2 linked regions of the Homo sapiens genome follow. The protein of the gene in region 1 interacts with the protein of each later gene in a biochemical or structural test. Each region holds a gene or a part of one and is shown on either strand. Other genes may lie near its edges.

Region 1 (3,744 bases):
TATTTTGACATTTTTATTTCTTGCTCTAAATATTTATTTATTTATTCATATTTATGTTTATTTTTGAGACAGGGTCTCACTCTGTCGCCCAGGCTGGAGCCCAGTGGCACAATCTTGGCTCACTGACTGCAACCTCCACCTTCTGGGTTCAAGTGATCCTTCTGCCTCAGCCCCCCAAGTAGCTAGGACTACAGGCATGCATCACCACACCCAGCTAATTTTTGTATTTTTTGTAGAGACAGGGTTTTGCCATGTTGCCCAGGCTGGTCTTGAACTCCTGAGCTCAAGTGATCCGCCCACTTGGCCTCCCAAAGTGCTAGGATTACAGGCATGAGCCACCGCACCTGGCTATTTATTCTTGAGATGGGGGTCTTGCTTTGTTGCCCAGGCTGGATGGAATGCAGTGGTGCAATCATAGCTCACTGCAGCCTCAAAATCCTGGGCTAGGCCGGGCGCGGTGGCTCACGTCTGTAATCCCAGCACTTTGGGAGGCCGAGGCGGGTGGATCACAAGGTCAGGAGATCGAGACCACGGTGAAACCCCGTCTTTACTAAAAATACAAAAAAAATTAGCCGGGCACGGTGGCAGGCGCCTGTAGTCCCAGCTACTCAGGAGGCTGAGGCAGGAGAATGGAGTGAACCCGGGAGGCGGAGCTTTCAGTGAGCCCAGATCGCGCCACTACACTCCAGCCTGGGCGACAGAGCAAGACTCTGTCTCACAAAAAAAAAAAAAAAAAAAAAAAAAAATTCCTGGGCTCCAGCAATCCTCCCACCTCAGCCTCCTGCGTAGGTGGGACTACAGGTGCACGCCACCACACCCACTAGTTTGGTTTTGTTTTGGTTTTTTGGTTTTTTTGTTTTGTAGAGATGGAGTCTCCTACGTTGTCCAGGATAGTCTCAAACTCCTGGCTTCAAGGGATCCTCCCACTTCAGCCTCCCAAAGTGTTGGGATTTACAGGTGTCAGCCCAGCCTTTGATTTTTACCTAGAGGTTGTATTTATTTGGATGTCACTGATTGAGAGCACTGAGGGGGCCTCCGAGCCACCTCTCCAGGCTATGTAGATCTAGATCAAGCTTGTCCAACCCATGGCCTGAGGCCCGCATGCAGCACAGGACAGCTTTGAATGCGGCACAACACAAATTTGTAAACTTTCTTAAAACATTATGAGATTTTTTTGTGATTTTTTTTTTCTCATCAGCTATTGTTACTGTTAGTGTATTTTATGTGTAGCCCAAGACAACAATGCAGTCCAGGGAAGCCAAAAGATTGGACACCCCTGATCTAGACCTTACCCAAGGGATTTAACCTCCATGGGCCTCAGTTGTCTCCTCTGTGAAATGGGAATGTCATAATTGCACCCAAGTGAAAATTAAATGAGAAAACGCTTTCAAAGCACTTAGCACTTCACCACTTATAGGAAATGACAATTGCCATTAACTGCTATTAATATACCAGAAACTGTTACTCACTACTTTTGAGAAATATTCATTAAGTACCTAGTTGGTACCAATGTTTTGTCTACACTGACCGGTTTTTCAAACTGTGGATCCCTTAGGAAATAAGTTTATGGTGTGTATTTTGCTGATGAGGAAACGGGGCCTCAGAGCAAGAGGCGCACACAGGCAGGAGTTGGCCCAGGTGGGATTCAAACCCAGGTCCCTGCTAGTACCTCTATCCTGGCTGTGGCACTGTACCTTTGAGTCTCAGCTTCCGCTCCTACCACCGGCCTTCAGAGCGGCTCAGGTTGGAGGGCCTGAAGTCCTGGGTTCCTGGGAAGAGGGGCCTGGGGTCCCCGGACTTCTACCTCTGTGAGATAGCGGGGCGGAGAACTGGGCCCCCGGACCCTGGAGAAGCAGCACGTCGTGATCCTAGATCTCTGGGTCCCCAGTGTGGAAACCCACTGGGTCTCTGCTGCCTTAGTCCCGGGCAATCTCCCTGCTTCCTTGCTGAGGCCAAGTGATTTCGGCTTTCTTGCCGCGGGTTCGGAGTGGGGGAAGGAGGGGGTGCAGGGGGAGGAGCCGCGGACCTGCGACAGTGGCGAGGGGAGGAGCCGAGCCGGCACCGCGGCTGGCGCGCGGGGCTGCGGCGGCGGCGGCGGCGGCAGCGGCGGCAGCGGCGGCTCCGGGTGAGTCCGCTCCTCCCCCTCCTCCTGCCACAGCCCCAGCCCCAGTCAAATCCCTGGGGTCGGCCCCGGCGCATGGGGGCGGGGTAGATGCAGAGGCGCGTGGATCTCGGGCCGGGGAGTGGGAGCGCTGCAGCGCTCTCTGGCCACCCCGGGGGAGGGGCACGTGGCCCTGGAAGGGGGTCCCGAAACACCTGGGTGTATCCCACCCCTCGCCCACCGATCCCCAGCGCGGGGGGATCGTTTCCTCATTCCGTGGCCCCTAAGGACTTAGGGCTCCGTGGCTTTTCGAAGTCCCGGACATCGTTCCCCTCCCCTGAAGCGTCTTGGGACCCCAGCATCTTAACCCCCCAAAACCTTAAAAAAAAAAAAAAAATCCCATCCTCTCTGCAGCCCGGAGGCATTAAGGACTTCAACTCCCAGCAGATCCTGCAGCGCCGGGTCTATGAAGCCGCAGCAGCGCGAGCGCGAGACCTGCCGGGAATTGTAGTCTCTAAGCCCTCAACGGGAGCTGGGGGCCCGGAGGTGGGAGGGGGTGGCCGGGCTCCCAGTGGGTCGCCTGGGGTCGGGCAGCTGGCTCGAGTAGGGCAAGATGTGACTGTTAAGCTGAGCTTTTTCTCCCGGCCTCAGCCCCTAGATCAGACATTCTCTCTCATTACCCGGCGCGTGGGAACGGGTCCACAGCCCCTTGTCCGCCCTAGAACCCCCATGGGCTGCCGCCCGCCGCCGCCTCGGCTGCCACCCAGGACACGGCAGAGATAAGCGCAGGTGAGTGTGGCCATGCCTGTCTTGGAGTCCTGGCCTTCTGCAGCACCCCCACGACACCTGTCCATCTGTGAGCCCTGGTCTGTCTGTTCCTAATTCCCCTGCATCCCCTTCAACCCATCTTGATGCCTGGCTCCGAGCCATGTGTCACTAATTCCCCCTCTCCCCACATCCACCTCTCCTTCCTAGCCTCCTCTCATTTATGTGCTCATTGAACCTTCCCTTATGAACCCATGTCTGTCTGCCCAGCCCTCCTGTCTCCTTTTGTCTATCTGCGATCTCTAGCCATCATCTGCTGTCCTTGCCCACCCATCCATCCTCCCGTTCGACCGTTTCTCTTTCAAAGATATTTCTGCCCACACTCCTGCCTGCCCCTCTTCACCGTCTCTCGTCCTCTCGTCTCTCAAGCCCCCGTGAATTAATTACATCTCGGTTCATTCCTTGTCACTGTCCATCCCAAGTCTCAATCCTTGACTTTCCTTCTGCCTGCCTGTTCACCTCTCCATCTCTTCGGAGCCTCAGTCTGCCCTTCACATTATCTCTGTCTCCCCTCCCTGTATCTCTCCCTCCCTCAACTTGGTCCCCATCTCTGCATCTCCACCTCTCCACCCCCAGCTCCCACCATACCTATCCACCTCCAATCTCTCTACCCACATCCATCCTTCTCTCCTGGCCCTCCCCGCGTCTACCCCAGTCTGGCCTCCTTGGTCCCTGGACCCTCCAACTGCTTTCCTACCCTAAGCCCCTGTCATCCTGCTCCTACTGTCTAAAATGCTTTTCTTTAAAATGCTTTTCCCATCCTGGCGCCACTGCCCCCCGCCTGTGGCTGGCTCCATGTCATCCTTCAGGTTTGGGAG
Region 2 (3,744 bases), 840 kb from region 1:
GGCCTGGCGCGGTCGGGGTGGGGAAGGTCAGTTCGGGTCAGGAGGAGGGGAGGGCGGGAAGGGGGTGTGCAAGAGGGGTGGGGTGGGGGGACAGGGCTCTGACCAGGACGTCGGTGCTGGCCACTGAGCTGAGGGTGAGGTACTCCACGGCTCGCTGCTGCAGCTCCACGTCAGCATTGCGCAGCTGGGAGCCGGCCCGCAGGACGCCCTGGATGGTGGCCTTGGTCTCGGGGAAGAGGTTGATGAACTTGATGTAGGTGGACAGCAGCAGCGCCCGCGTGGCCACGCTGCACAGATGGAACTTGGAGTGGAGCAGGGAGAACTGCACTGGGGGGCTGTGTGCAGGAGTGGGTGTCAGCGGGGCCAGGTTCCACTGCCCTCTCCCAGAAACCCCCTCGAGAGGTGCCCCTCCCTAGGATGGACCCGTCCCAGGACCCCAAGCTGCTGGAGGGGAGTGGCCCTCCCCAGGCACCAGACAGGGGCCGCAGTCACACTCTGTCCACGATCCTGGGACTAAGCTCCTTTCTTACCCTGCTAGGTGGATTGGGGTGGAGGCCGAGAGGATGGGAGCCCATCACTGCCTGCCCTGAGACCCCTGGGGATCCCCCAAGCCCTGGACCCCTCAGAAGCATGTGTGTTCTCCCCTGCAGGCTGAGGCTCCCTCACCTGGAGCGGGGGTCCCCAGCAATCAGGTTCCCAAACTCCCCAAGGATGTAGCCGCCAACCTTCACCATGTTCTCGTGACAGGCAGGGGCCTGGAGCGCCTGAGTGGGGTGGGGAAGGGCGTGGAGAGGACAACAATGAGCGCCCTCTCCGGGATCGGTGGGTGCAGCCACCTACTGACTGGTGGAACACTGAAAGCTCTGCTGCAGGTGGGGTTATAGGTGGGAAACTGAGTCACAGAAAGGTTGAGTGACGGGCCCAAGCTCACACAGGAAGTAAAACAGGGCTGTGGGCCGGAAGCAGTGGCTCATGCCTGTAATCCTGGTACTTTGGGAGGCCGAGGCGGGCAGATTGCCTGAGCTCAGGAGTTTCAAACCAGCCTGGGTAACATGGTGAAACCCCGTCTCTACTAAAAATACAAACAAATTAGCTGGGTGTGGTGGCGCGTGCCTGTAGTACCAGCTACTGGGGAGGCTGAGGCAGGAGAATGGCTTGACGCTGGGAGGCCGAGGTTGCAGTGAGCCGAGATCGCACCACGGCACTCACTCCCCACTCCAGCCTGGGCAACAGAGTGAGACTCCGTCTCCAGAAACAAACAAACAAACAAACAAAAAACAGGACTGTGTGGGGCCCCTTTCCTGGGGCAGAGGGAAACTACCGAGATCCGGGGGCCAGGACTGCACACTGGGTGCCCCATGCCCATGCCCTGGGGACTCCTCACATCAGGCCCATGAGACCATAGCCCTGGGTCCCCTGGGTTGGCCCAGAGAGGCAGAGGCCCCATTTTGAGGTCACGGCAGTGCAGGAGAAGGAGGGTGGCTGCGGGCTGGCAGGCGCCACGGCCCCGGCCATCCTTGCTCTGCCTCTAGGTCCTGTCGTGGGGTCATAGGGTCAGGGTCAGGGATGCTGACCTCAAAGACGGTCTTGGCGGCATAGCCCTGGACGTCATCACGGTTGGTGACGATCTGTAGCACACGGTACCACACCTCCTCACTCACGTAGTCGCCCGCAATGCGGATGAGGTTGAGGATGGTGTCCACGTACCAGCTGTAGTCCACGGCGTACTTCTCGGCCAGGATGGCCACCTTCAGGACCTGCCGCCGGGGCGTGTGAGAGAGAGTGTGCCGCAGGCCATGTCGGGCTTTCACTCACCTGGATCTGGGCTCACCACTGCCCCCATCTGGAGACCCAGGAGTCCAGGCCCCAGCCCCTCCTCCCTTAGACTTAGGAATCCAGGCCCCCAGCCACCTCCTGCCTCAGACCCAAGAGTCCAGCCCGCACCCCACAGCACTCACGATCTCCTCGCGGATGGCGTAGTCTGCCGTCTCCAGGTACCGCAGCATCTCCGACACGATCTGCTTGGCATTGCTCCGGTCACACATGGCGTAGAGGAGGTCAGCCGCCCGCTGCCGCACGCTGACGTCCCGCTCCGTCTGAGGGCGGAGAGCAGAGCCCAGGTGTGTTTTAGACTCCCTGTTGGCACAGGGTTGGCCACCCAAGGGCCTCTGAGCCTCTGGTCTTTCTGAGGGGGGTGGCAGGCCCGGGGTGGGCTCCAAGGGCTCACACCTTGAGGGCATTGATGACGGTGTCAATGTGCGTCTTGACGGCTTCATGGGAGAACTCGGAGCTGGCCAGCGTGCACATGCTCTCCAGGGCCAGGTAGCGCAGGTTGGTCTCCCGGTGCTGCAGGAACTGGCCCAGCTGGTTGCAGGCCCGAACCAGGAGGTTGGGCTCACTGCCAGCAGGGGCCACAAGAGAGGGATGGTGAGAGAAACTGACAGGAGAAGGTGGAGGACTCGGGCCCCAGCTGACCCATCTCACAGCCCCCAAGGATCCAGGTCTTAACCTTGCCGGCCTTGCATCGCAGTACTGCACCTCCAGTGACCCAGACAACTGGGCCTTTGAGCCCAGAGAAAGATACCTAGCAATTCTGCCCCCAGGAAGGGCCCCAGCACCAACCTCACAGGTGACACTTCACAGCCCCATCCTCCTCCTACCCTACCTAAAAGTCAAGATTCCCTGCCCTCTGCCTAGGACTCAGGAGTCCGGGCCTCCATGCCCCTCTTTCCTGGCCCCAGGCATCAGGCCCTGATAGGCCCAGGCGGGCACCTGTCATAGTGGATGATGAGGCTGATGGTCTCGAAGAGGATGGCGTTCTTGGCGTTGGAATGCTGCACCTTCTTGGATTTGGGGGGCTCCTGGGCCTTGTTGAGCACAGTCTCCAGACATTCCACCAGCCGCCCCTTCACAGCCGCATCCTCTGGGGAAACGAAGGGGACGCCCCCGGCTGAGTGTCCTGCCCACCTGGCACACCTGCTGGGGTGGTGGCCATGCCCCAGCTCCTGTCTTCCAAAGGAGGAGCTCGGGGTGCCTCTGACACTCGAGAATTCTGCAGCTCAGGGCCAGGGTCTCTGCTCCCTCAACCTCTTCCCAGCCCAGCAGAGATGGTGAGACAAGGCACCTCTGGAGACACAAGATCTATCCCCAGACCTGGGCTCTCCTCCTGCTCTGACCCTCTCGGGCAAGAGGTGGCACCATGTGAGCCTCAGTTTCCTCATCTGCAGCTCTGAGGCTCCTTAGGTTTCTCACAGAGCAAAGGAAGCTCCAGGAACCTTCCCCAGAGGTGCCCCCAAACCCAGGCCTTCCCAAGGACTGGTGTGAGTGCTGAGCAGCCCCTGACAAAAATGCACAAGCCACCCACCCAAGTGTCCATTCAGCAAGAGGCCACTGCAGGCACACTCGGTGCCATCCTCCTGGCCTAGAGGCTGGGAGGCCAAAGGAGACAAGGCTCAACCAGGTGCCCCCTCACCCCCCAGAGCTCTCCACCACTGACAGATGCCAGCCAGCAGCTCACAGGAGCACCAATCACCACGTTTCCTAGAATGTGACGTGTTTTCAAGTGTATGCAAGAGCTGTCAAGCGTTCCAGCAAAAAATGGTTCCGCAGATTTTTCTGCAGAATTTTCCGCAGGAAAATTCACCAGATAGAGGAACAAGCTAAAATACACCACAAGGCAGCAATGAGCCCAGTCGCCACCATGGGACACACAGCAATGGCATCTCCTGGTTTCTCCATAAACAG

What was found. Proteins that work in one complex are often made in the same cells at the same time.
Region 2: the proteins of SYT3 (region 1) and AP2A1 form a complex in vitro, tested with the Homo sapiens proteins (one study listed by BioGRID).

The regions. Positions count from the first base shown.
Region 1 is NC_000019.10:50,638,171-50,641,914, reverse strand, and holds the start of SYT3 (synaptotagmin-3), read left to right. Parts: upstream 1-2,033; 5' UTR 2,034-2,125; intron 2,126-2,515; exon of another isoform or gene 2,516-2,752; 5' UTR 2,753-2,890; intron 2,891-3,744. UniProt on the Homo sapiens protein: Ca(2+) sensor involved in Ca(2+)-dependent exocytosis of secretory vesicles through Ca(2+) and phospholipid binding to the C2 domain.
Region 2 is NC_000019.10:49,797,981-49,801,724, reverse strand, and holds part of AP2A1 (AP-2 complex subunit alpha-1), read right to left. Parts: intron 2,924-3,744; coding exon 2,773-2,923; intron 2,399-2,772; coding exon 2,230-2,398; intron 2,121-2,229; exon of another isoform or gene 2,097-2,120; coding exon 1,959-2,096; exon of another isoform or gene 1,758-1,958; coding exon 1,575-1,757; intron 765-1,574; coding exon 667-764; intron 336-666; coding exon 104-335; intron 4-103; coding exon 1-3.